3 linked regions of the Homo sapiens genome follow. The protein of the gene in region 3 purifies or fractionates together with the protein of the main gene of each other region. This does not show direct contact. Each region holds a gene or a part of one and is shown on either strand. Other genes may lie near its edges. The genes, in order: NSMCE4A, NSMCE2 and SLF2.

Evidence for each region.
Region 1: the proteins of SLF2 (region 3) and NSMCE4A purify together in Homo sapiens (affinity purification with mass spectrometry; one large-scale study listed by BioGRID and IntAct). This does not show direct contact.
Region 2: the proteins of SLF2 (region 3) and NSMCE2 purify together in Homo sapiens (affinity purification with mass spectrometry; one large-scale study listed by BioGRID and IntAct). This does not show direct contact.

Annotation. Positions count from the first base shown.
Region 1 is NC_000010.11:121,965,074-121,968,726, forward strand, and holds part of NSMCE4A (non-structural maintenance of chromosomes element 4 homolog A), read right to left. Parts: intron 2,734-3,653; coding exon 2,582-2,733; intron 313-2,581; coding exon 213-312; intron 1-212. UniProt on the Homo sapiens protein: Component of the SMC5-SMC6 complex, a complex involved in DNA double-strand breaks by homologous recombination. The complex may promote sister chromatid homologous recombination by recruiting the SMC1-SMC3 cohesin complex to double-strand breaks.
Region 2 is NC_000008.11:125,101,766-125,105,418, reverse strand, and holds part of NSMCE2 (E3 SUMO-protein ligase NSE2), read right to left. Parts: intron 3,406-3,653; exon of another isoform or gene 3,369-3,405; 5' UTR 3,273-3,368; intron 3,103-3,272; 5' UTR 3,089-3,102; coding exon 2,932-3,088; intron 1-2,931. UniProt on the Homo sapiens protein: E3 SUMO-protein ligase component of the SMC5-SMC6 complex, a complex involved in DNA double-strand break repair by homologous recombination. Is not be required for the stability of the complex.
Region 3 is NC_000010.11:100,947,452-100,951,104, forward strand, and holds part of SLF2 (SMC5-SMC6 complex localization factor protein 2), read left to right. Parts: intron 1-308; coding exon 309-396; intron 397-2,624; coding exon 2,625-2,756; intron 2,757-3,224; coding exon 3,225-3,302; intron 3,303-3,653. UniProt on the Homo sapiens protein: Plays a role in the DNA damage response (DDR) pathway by regulating postreplication repair of UV-damaged DNA and genomic stability maintenance.

The sequences.
Region 1 (3,653 bases), about 21 Mb from region 3:
AGAACTGATCAAAACTAGAGAAATGAGTTAAAACAAAGACAAGCAGCCAATCCAATAAAATGCTTAAAGGCTTAAATAAAATGATTATTTAAGTGACAAAACCTGGCTCCAGACCCGCACACTTAGAAAAAATGGCCAAATTGCATGCACATTATTTTAACAGCTATTTTAACTTTAATGTGTTTTTTTAAAAGCAACATTTTAAAACAAACCTGGGCAGGCATTGCCCTCTCCTCTTGTATCACAGGAACTTTTCTTGGACGATCAACTCGTGGCTTTGGCACAGGGCACTCTCCGTATATTGAACCCAACCTAATGAAAAGTATGCTTTCATTTATTTTTTTTGCCTGTTGTTTGTTAAACAAACTAACTTTACTAACTAAAAGTAGTTTGCATGGTATAGTCAAATTCAGACCAGACATCAGTGATATACAAGCTGACATCAGAGTAAGACTCTTGATAAGGTTTGTGACAGCCTTTCTGCCTTCTTTGTATTTCTAAAAGAACTCCTAGGAGCTTTACTCAACCACAGATACCTCCTCAGACACCTACATACTGCCCTGTAAAGTAGGCCAGTGAATATGCCTGTGACATCTTCCCACCACCCAACCTATTGTTTTGCAAAGCCAACTTCTAAGAGCAGGGGAAGGATGAACATGTATGTGGGGAAGCTCCAGTGGGGTCAGAAGACTTTGATCTGGGGAGGCCAAGGCAGAGGCTCCCAGCCCAGGACTACAGAACACATCTGTCTTAGGATAACAGGGCAAGTCACAGCCATGGGATTCCTTTTCCTTCTGGATTCTGCCCTCATGCAGACTTGGGTTACAGTAATAGATGTAAGTCTGCATCATGTAGAGATCAAAGCCCCAAGAATAAGGCTCATGTGGTCCCTACCCTTGAGGAGACAAAAATATACGATGTAGATGGACAGCTGCATTATGCACACAGATCCATTTCAATATAACATGGTGGGCTACTCTGGGAACACTCCTGCTCCACAAGGAGCAGTATAAAAAAATAAATTAATCAAATTTTAAAAAAGCAACATGGTAGATCCTGGGCGCTTAGAGAGTACTGCTCAAGTGCTATGAGAACACTTGGGCAGAGATATCTACCCAGACATGGGAGTGACGTGGTTGAGAAATCTGATCCTACACTGCTAACACCTCTGTCTGGAGAAGTTGCTGGAGGCTTCCAAGATGGGGCCTGTGGGATAAACAAACTTTACCGAATGGAAAAGATGAAAAGGAATTGGAGGCCAAGAGAACAGCAAGTACAAAGACACAGAGTTTTAAGTACTTCATTGTGGCTGGAAATTGGGCTGGATGATGAGATAAAGTTTAAGGCTTTATCTTTATAACCTAGGATTTATGAGTTTAGTACAATAGCAAAAAACAAAGATTTAGACTTTATCCTAAGATGAAGAAGTTTGGACTACATCCTATTAAATAGAACATACACAAATGGCTCTGGGCACCTGAGTTACCTGAAGTCTTATTAAAAATAGATGCCAGACCCCACACCACACTACTACATTGGCATCTCCAAGGCCTTCTACCCGAGCTACTATCAATCTCAATGGTTTTTAGAAAGACAAATTAGAAAAGACAAAAGCCCAGGAGCTATACCACTTAAAGAAGGACTGAACAACTCAGATGGCTACCCTAAAGTATTTACTGGGCAACAAAACCAGTATACTTGAAGGTCCTCTTAGAGAAGAGCCAGTAAGAGCTGTTCTTAATTTCTCCATAGGACCATGCCAGGAAGTTAAGACAGAAGCCAACTTCATTCAAATATAAAGAAATCTTTTTTTTAAATCAGAGTTCTATCTAAAAAATGAACTGGACAGTTTATGTGGCAGTGACAAGTAATCTTCAAATACAAGTCAGTGGTCATCTAACAGGGTATTATAATAAATGTCACTTTAGACGTTGGGAGACTCATAAGATACCCTCAGTAGGAGGTATCATCCTCCTATATGATAAGGATTTTAAAGATGATAAACCCAGAGTCTCATGAGCTAGAAGCAAAGGAGCCAGGAGAGCACTGGTAAAGAGGTTCTGGCCTTTTCTGCTAAAGCAGAATGAGAGATCCTTTAAGGTTCCATCCACATCTAGAGTTTATGGACTTTTTTTTCTTTTTTGAGACAGGGTCTCACTGTCAGCCAGGCCGGAGTGCAATGGCGCAATCTCAGCTCACTGCAATCTCTGCCTCCCAGGCTCAAGTGATCCTCCCACCTCAGCCTCCCAAGTAGCCAGGACCACAGGCATGGGCCACTACAGCGGGCTAATTTTTTGTATTTTTGGTAGAGATGGGTTCTCGCCATGTTGCCCAGGCTGATCTTGAATTCCTGAGCTCAGATGATCTACCTGCATCCACCTGCCAAAGTGCCGGGATTACAGGCATGAGCCACCACACCCGGCCTAGTGTTTATGAACTTTCATATCAAAGTTTCAAAAGTCTCCAAACAACGGCATCATGACTGTCACCTCTACAATACCAAATAATCTTTGTCCCTACAAGAAAAAGCAATTTAAGGTTCACAAATAACTGGTCTGTTGGATTTTTAAAATAATCTTACAGAAAGTGGAATGTATGGGTTTTATTAAAGGTGTTTTCTGCTGTTCTGCCTGTTATCTTCCAGGAGTCATAGACTATGAATTCAAAATCAGGACTATCTTCATCACGGATGAGTTCTTCAGCTTCTAGCGGATTTACACCCATATGTGTGAGCTACAAAAATGAAGGAAAACAAAAAACCCAGTTAAGCCACATGCAATCATTTTCCACATCCAATAATCCGCATCACTCAACCTTTAAGAGGCCAGACGCAAAGCCAGCTTTCAGTGTCTTAACATGCTGGCTAAATTTCTTACTGTGAAGATAACTTTACAGTTAAAGTCCTGCTTCCAAAGCTACCTTCTTTTTGGCAGAAAACATTCCTCAATGTACTTAAAACCTTTGGGTGAGAAAGTGAAATGATTTAGACCAGTGGTTCTCAACCTGGGTATACGTGCCCACAGGGGTCTTCTGGCAATACCTGGAGACATTTGTGGGTGTCACAACTGATATGCTGCTGGCATATACTGGGTAGAGGCCATGGAGGCTGTTGAATATCATATAATGCACAGTAACAGCCCCCAAAACAAAGACATGCCCAGCTCAAAATGCCAATCCATAGTGCCAGTGCTGAGAAACCCTGCTGTAGCCCACTGGCAGCCAGAAGTATTTAGGTATGCCAGAACTCAGCCCCCTGGGATTTTTTGTATCACCAATAGTTCGTGTATTAGTAAAGCTGCACTAACATATAAATATAAAATTAAATCCCAAATCAAAAGCTTCAAGACAGCACAAGGAAGTTCAGCTGGTTTTCAGATTTTAATTTTTTGCCAACCTCCTACAAATCTCTATTCAGCTTGTATCTCAGTATATCCAGAGAGCAGTGGCCCGGCATCACTGAGAGAATGGCTCATCTTAAAATTGCCTTCCTGGGAAGAGTTGGCGGAAGTCAAATAATTCTCTCATCTCAAACTGTCTTACAGAAAATGTGTTATATTGAATTTACTTTTATGAAAGTACATTTTTATTACATTATACTGTAAAATGCCTAGAAGTTATCCAATTACGATGGCAATATCATATATAAACAATAA
Region 2 (3,653 bases), on a different chromosome or scaffold from region 3:
AAAACTGATACAATCTCCCAAGGGGTTATGTTCCAGTCTTCTCTCTTATGGTTTAAGATTTTATTATGACTTTTATCCAGGCCTATCTATCAAAGCTAAATTATGATCACCAAAAACATAATCAAAAACAGACTGGGTAGGGTTAAAACATTTGGAGGCCACCCACTAAAAAGATTATGAGTGACACCTGCTGTTAGCCGTAAATGAATAACTGTATGGAGCTGGTCCACCTGCCATGAATGACTGAAAAACTAAACAAAATATATGAAACAATAGCTGTGGGACAGTAGGACAAAGGCGGGACAGGACTGTAATTACTGCAATAAGGGAAAACTGGGAAAAGTCTTGCAATGGCCTCCTCCCTGCGCAAGGGAGGAGGAATCCAAGGGAGTTTTTGAGACAGAGTCTCACTCTCTTCCCCAGGCTGGAGTACAGTGGCACAATCTCGGCTCACTGCAACCCCCTTCTCCCATGTTCAGGCAATTCTCCTGCCTCAGCCTCCCCAGTAGCTGGGACTACTGGCATCCTCCACCATGCCTAATTTTTGTTTTTTAGTAGAGACAGGGTTTCGTCAGGTTGGCCTGGAACTCCTGACCTCAGGAGATCCTCCTGCTTCGGCCTCCCAAAGTGTTGGGATTACAGGTAGGAGCCACCATGCTCGGCCTAGCACAGCAGTCTTGAAGGATTGAGGAGACAGAGACTTCAGTTCAGGGAGGCTGAGGCAGCCAGCAGGGTTTGCAAGAGAGTGAGGGAGCTATGCAGATAAAGAGCTCTAGGAATCTGCACTGGGGTCCCCTTGAGTCTGATGCTGAGTCCTAAGATGCTGAGCAACAAATACTGACAGCTATAAAGTGAACAACTCCCAGGTTCAGTCACGTAGGACCTAGGACCGGGAGACACTCAAATTCCATCCAGCCAGAGTAGAGCTATCGCACTGAACCCTCGGGGCAATCAAGAGAGACTCCAGAAGGGCCATGCTTTGTAACAAGGCTAAATTAGCCCTAACATAAAGGCTATATTAGACTTGACCTAACAAAGCTTAACGATAAGCCTAGAAAGGATCAGCCTAATCCACAATCACTTAGCTGCACACCAAACAAACTCCAACACTATTTAAAAGAGGACAACAAGCTGGGCATGGAGGCTCATGCCTGTAATTCCAAGATTTTGGAAGGCCAAGGCAGGCGGATTACCTGAGGTTGGGAGTTTGAGACCAGCCTGACCAACATGAAGAAACTCCGTCTCTACTAAAATTACAAAATTAGCTGGGCGTGGTGGCGCATGCCTGTAACCCCAGCTACTCCGAAGGCTGAGGCAGGAGAATCGCTTGAACCCGGGAGGCGGAGGTTGCAGTGAGCCGAGATCGCACCATTGCACTCCAGCCTGGGCAACAAGAGCAAAATTCCGGCTGAAAAAAAAAAAAAAAAGACAACAAAATCCAAACACTCAACAACATAATACACATAGAGATGACAGAATTAACATACAAGGATATTAAAATAGCTATTATAAACATGCTCCATATACTCAAGAATGTAGAGGAAAATATGGACACAATGAAGAAAGAAATGGAAGACTAAAAAAAAAGATTCTACTTAATTCTTTGTTATGTCTTCAACAATTAAAAATACAGTAACTGAAATTTTTAAATTCACTAAATGGAATTATCAGATTAGACACTGCAGTAGACAAGATGAATGAACTTAGCAATAGAAATTATTCAAATTGAAGCTAAAGAGTAAAAAGACTGGAAAAAATCTATCAAGTTCCACTGATTTATGGGACAATATCAACCCATCTAACATACATGAAATGTGAGTCACACAGAAGGAGAGGAGAGCAGAGGAATTAAAAAAATATATTTGAAGAAATAGTAGCAGAAATTTTTCCAAATTTGATTCAAAAAACTATAAGCTGACAGATCCATAAATCTCAAACAATATCAGTCAGGACAAAAAAAATCACACCACGGCACATCACAAATTGCTCAAAACCTATGCCAATAAAAACAAAACAAAAGGATCATGCTGCTCCTCTGGCTCCATGTGTAAAATAAAATAAAAACGATTCTACTCCAAAGAAAGCAAATAACATCTTTTTTCTTTTTTTTTTTGAGACAGAGTCTTGCTCTGTTGTCCAGACTGGAGTGCAGTGGCTCGGTCTCGACTCACTGCAACCTCCACCTCCCGGGTTCAAGTGATTCTCCTGTCTCAGCCTCCCGAGTAGCTGGAATTACAGGCACCTGCCACCACACCCAGCTAATTTTTTGTATTTTTAGTAGAGACGGGGTTTCACCATGTTGGTTTTGTATTTTTAGTAGAGACGGGGTTTCACCATATTGGCCAGGCTGGTCTCAAACTCCTGACCTCGTGATCTGCCGGCCTCGGCCTCCCAAAGTGCTAGGATTACAGGGGTGAGCCACTGCACCCGGCCTGCAAATCACATCTTTCTAGATCTTCTTGATTGAACAAATGTAGGTAAAATTCATTAAAGTTGAACTTTTCTCATTTTTGTTGAGGCCTTCCTTTGCTGGTATCCCTAGCATAAGCTTAGTCTATCTACTGGTTAATCAAGTATGACCAAAGTATAAACTACTGAAAAATAACAATATCATAATAAATTTATATACCTTACAGTTCACAAATGTCAAATACTTTAGATTGTATGCTCCTTGGGGTCAGGATCTTCAAATCTTTGCCCATACATTTCTAGCGCAGTTTCTCATGGAACTTAACTGTCTGAACACACATGAATGAGTCAATCTTATTTCACCCTCAGTACCCTGCTGCGGTGTGTAGAATAAAATGAGACAACAGATGCCTAGAGGGGTTAAATCATTCCCCCAAGGATACTCAAAAGGCACCCCCAGATAAATACCACCACACAGTGTTACCTCAAAGTAGACACAAAAGAGGTTTTAATTTTACTTACTCTGACTTTCCACAAGATCCAAAGCAACACTAGAAGCTGTGTCCATACCAGAGTTGATACAGGCTTGGAAGTTTTTCAAGGAGGAGAGAGCAGACTCTACACCACTGAAGGAGATGAAACCAGTTGAACCTGAATTTGAACTGGAACGTCCTGGCATCTTGAAATTAGTACCTAAGTTTTCAAACACAATGAAACAAGATTCGTAAGTCAGAATAATAACTGCACAGGAAAATATTAATAAAACTGCTGTAAACATTCATACAAATGTATCCAATATCTCATAAATGCCACACTATTCTGTATATCCTATAGAGAAGACACCAAATCACTGTGCCACTCACCTGGGCCACCAAACACAGCTGGACTCAATATATGGGGAAGGTAAGTGTCCTCAGTTTTTGGAGAGAGATTACCCTCTTCCAAAAGAGTGCTTGATTCTGTGAAGAAGTCAACAATAGCACAGTTCTTAAAAGCCTACAAGATAAATGGGTTAGAAAAAGTAGACCACTCATATGATGCAATTTTCCAAAGAGAAAAAAATACTAATAAAATAGTTTATTAGTAAACTATTTTGAAAACCTGTAATCGTTAAACTATCCAACATATATGCATACTGAATTCTGGAAACTGTAAAAAAAAGAGAAAATCTATATTCCTGCCAGTTCCTCTGGCTTCTAACAGATTAATAGACTTGGTGAGATCCCAGAGTCAGTGAAAGCAGA
Region 3 (3,653 bases):
GCTTTTTTTTGCTTTAGTAAAAATAAATTTCATCAGTAAAAAAATAGGTTTTCTGTCAGTAAATCATCAGGGTCAAAGATAAGGCCGTTAAATGATTTATTGAGCTTCAGATAACTCAAGTTTTATGTACAGATATTTTACATGAAAATTTTACTGTTCTATAACAGCTTATATGTTCCTGTACAGACTTCTCTTGAAACATTGCCTATATTTCCAATTAGAACTAGAGCTCCTCTTGGCTCATTCATTTGCTTTTCAAGCAGTATTAATTAAAATACATTCTAAATACTTTTAACTTCTAATTCTAGGCAACTGAGACAGTGCCTCAGTCTAGTGATTATTTCAAAGCTTTTGGATGAGAAACACGAAGATGTTCCTAATGCCAGTAATCTGCAGGTATAAATAAATACATTTTTATTTTTAATAAATGGGAGAGGTAATGAGAGGTGTAAGGAAAATTGATGAACCCTAAGTCAAAGGTCCTGGGGTCAGAGCTCAGCTCTTAAGCTTGATACTGTTCATGTAATCTCTAGCACACTTAACTAACAAGATCCAATTTTTTCATCTGTGAAATGGAGATAATATTGCACCCTCCACCACTTAGGGTGGTTGTGGACAATCAGATGTGAATTAATGTATAAAGAAACTACTGGGAAAATCATAATGTGCAATTATATGAATATGATTTCATTTATTGAATTAGTTCAGCTTTTCCAAGTTAGCAATTTTATCACAAGATTAGAAATTGCAAAACCCTTGTACATTGATTGCATCTTTAACCTGTTTTAAAATGAGTCTTTTTAGATCATAGAGCTTAAATGTAGTTGCCCTCTAGTACTTGTTCAGTAAGAATATATCATGTATATATGAGAGTGTGGATAAACATGTCCAGCTGTTGCTGGGTACTGGTGGCACACACCTATCGTCCCAGCTACTTGGGAGGCTGAGGCCAGAGGATCCTTTGAATCCAGGAGTTCAAGTCCAACCTAAGCAACATAGGGAGACCTTGTCTTTAATATATATATGAATGTTTTTAATTAAAAAAAATGTCCAATGGAAGTCCCACTCTGAGTAAAATTCTGAAGGCTTTTTATAAACATTGATAGCACTAATGGGGCTGCCCTTGCTTGGATTTGAAAACTCACCATAGGATGGGCACAGTGGCTCACGCCTGTAATCCCAGCACTTTAGGAGGCCGGGGCAGGTGGATCACGAAGTCAGGAGATCAAGACCATCCTAGCCAACACGGTGAAACCCCGTCTCTACTAAAAAAAATACAAAAAAATTACCCGGGCATGGTGGCGGACACGTGTAGTCCCAGCTACTCGGGAGGCTGAGGCAGGAGAATGACATGAACCCAGGAGGTGGAGCTTGCAGTGAGCCGAGATCACGCCACCGCACTCCAGCCTGGGCAACAGAGCGAGACTCTGTCTCAAAAAAAAGCCCCATAGAACCTGATCTGGATGTCCCTTTGTTCTTGTTTGAATTGCAATTTGGTACAAGGTATGCCACCAGATCCTAGGAATTAAAACAAACAAAGATTTAGATTAGAGACTCTGCCCTTGAAAACATAATCTAATGGTTGAAACAAAATTAACCAACTCTTATGGGTTAGTGTGGTAAGAACAGTAATCGAAGCATGCACGAGATGCTGTGGGATGGAGAGACTGATGGGCACAGCTGGTTTCTGCTTTAGTAGAATTGAGGTAGATTTGATTCCAGATATATGGGGATCATGCTGGAGCTACCAGGATAATTAGCAGATAGTTCTCATTCCTTTCATTGATATTTACTGCCTTCAAAAGAGATCCGGGGATAGGATTTCTACCATTTCTCCTAACTTTTGTTGTTCTGTTACTTTTTCCTTTTTTGCCCATGTAAAATAGAATAATTAGCTGAATAATTACATGAATAATTAACCCTCAAACTCACTAACTGATATTCAAGTAACAATCTAGTTGTGATTTTTACCACAACTTCTTGTAGTTCTTCTCAGAATTCAATGACTTCTAACCACAGAGTCAACTTTGTTGACTTTCAAATAATTTAACAGAGAAAGCATTCCCTGTGGCCTCTATGATAATATCGTTTGGTCTCCTAAGCATTTATCCTAAGTTACAAGTACTAAATCTTTAACTTAAAATCCCTTTTTTTTTTTTTGAGAGATGTAGTATTGCTCTGTCACCCAGGCTGGAATGCAGTGGCACAATCTCGGCTCACTGCAACCTCCACCCCGCATATTCAAGTGATTCTCGTGCCTCAGCCTCCCGAGTAGCTAGGACTACAGGCATGTGCCACCATGCCCAGCTAATTTTTGTATTTTTAGTAGAGGCGGGGTTTCTCCACGTTGGCCAGGCTGGTCTTGAACCTCTAACCTCAGGTGATTCACCTCCCTTGGCCTCTGAAAGTGTTGGGATTACAGGTGTGAGCCACCGTGCCCGACCACTTAAAATCCCTTTTTAAGCAATTCAGGGTTTTACATAAAGGGAAAATGGATATTGTTAAGTGTAAAGAAAGCTATAATAAAAGGACAAAATGAAAGAGTACACACTGGAAAAAAATAGCCTAAGAAAGAACAACTATATTATTTAGCTTTGTTCAATGTCTCCTCTTTCTTTTGATAGGTATCAGTCCTACATCGCTATCTTGTGCAGATGAAGCCTTCTGATTTGTTAAAGAAAATGGTCTTGAAGAAAAAGGCTGAACAACCAGATGGCATTATTGATGACAGTCTTCATTTAGAACTTGAAAAGCAGGTATCCAGTGCTAGAAGGTCTCAAAGAGTACATAGAAGCATAACTGTTATCAGCTTACTAACCATAGACTGATATGTAGGCATTTCTGGATTTGGACACTAGACACATTCTAGCAAACATAATTTTAAAGCGAATAATATTTTTAATTTATCACTGTCATGAAATTCTTCCATAAATTTGAGAGTTGAAAATTTAGGTAAAAGGATGATTGTTGGTAATTTGCTCCCAAGAGTATTTTTTGTAGCCCTTTATTAGGGCAGTCGTGAGGTCATGAATCATGGTAAAAAGAATGCACTTGAGTTAGAAATGAGAAAGCCTAGTTTAGATGCTTCGCTTTTACTTACTGACCAGCTGGGTTAACTTGACCGTATCCTTTATCCTTCCTGGGCAATTTTCCTAATGTGTAAATTGGAATGACATCTATGCTAGCTAATTCATAGGTGTTAATTTTATTCATTTCTCTAACAGGCATATTACCTGACCTACATTCTTCTTCATTTAGTCGGTGAAGTTAGTTGTTCTCATTCTTTTTCTTCTGGACAACGGGTAGGTAGTGTTTAGTGTTGTTGCTGCTGTTTTTAAATAGGTGTTACTGATGATGGAATGAGTGAGCATGCTTTATATAGGAGAAAACTATGTAAACTTTTCTTAATATAAAAGCTAATTGATTTTGCTATAAGAATTCCCATGTATACCAGAAAGAGGGGCATGATAATGGTCTTGTAACTATATCGTATTGAAAAGAATTGTTGGCCAGGCGCCATGGCTCACGCCTGTAATCCCAACACTTTGGGAGGCCAAGGTGCGTGGATCACTTGAGGTCAGGAGTTCAAGACCAGCCTGGCCAACATGGTGAAACCCCATCTCTACTAAAAATACAAAAAAATTAGCCAGGCG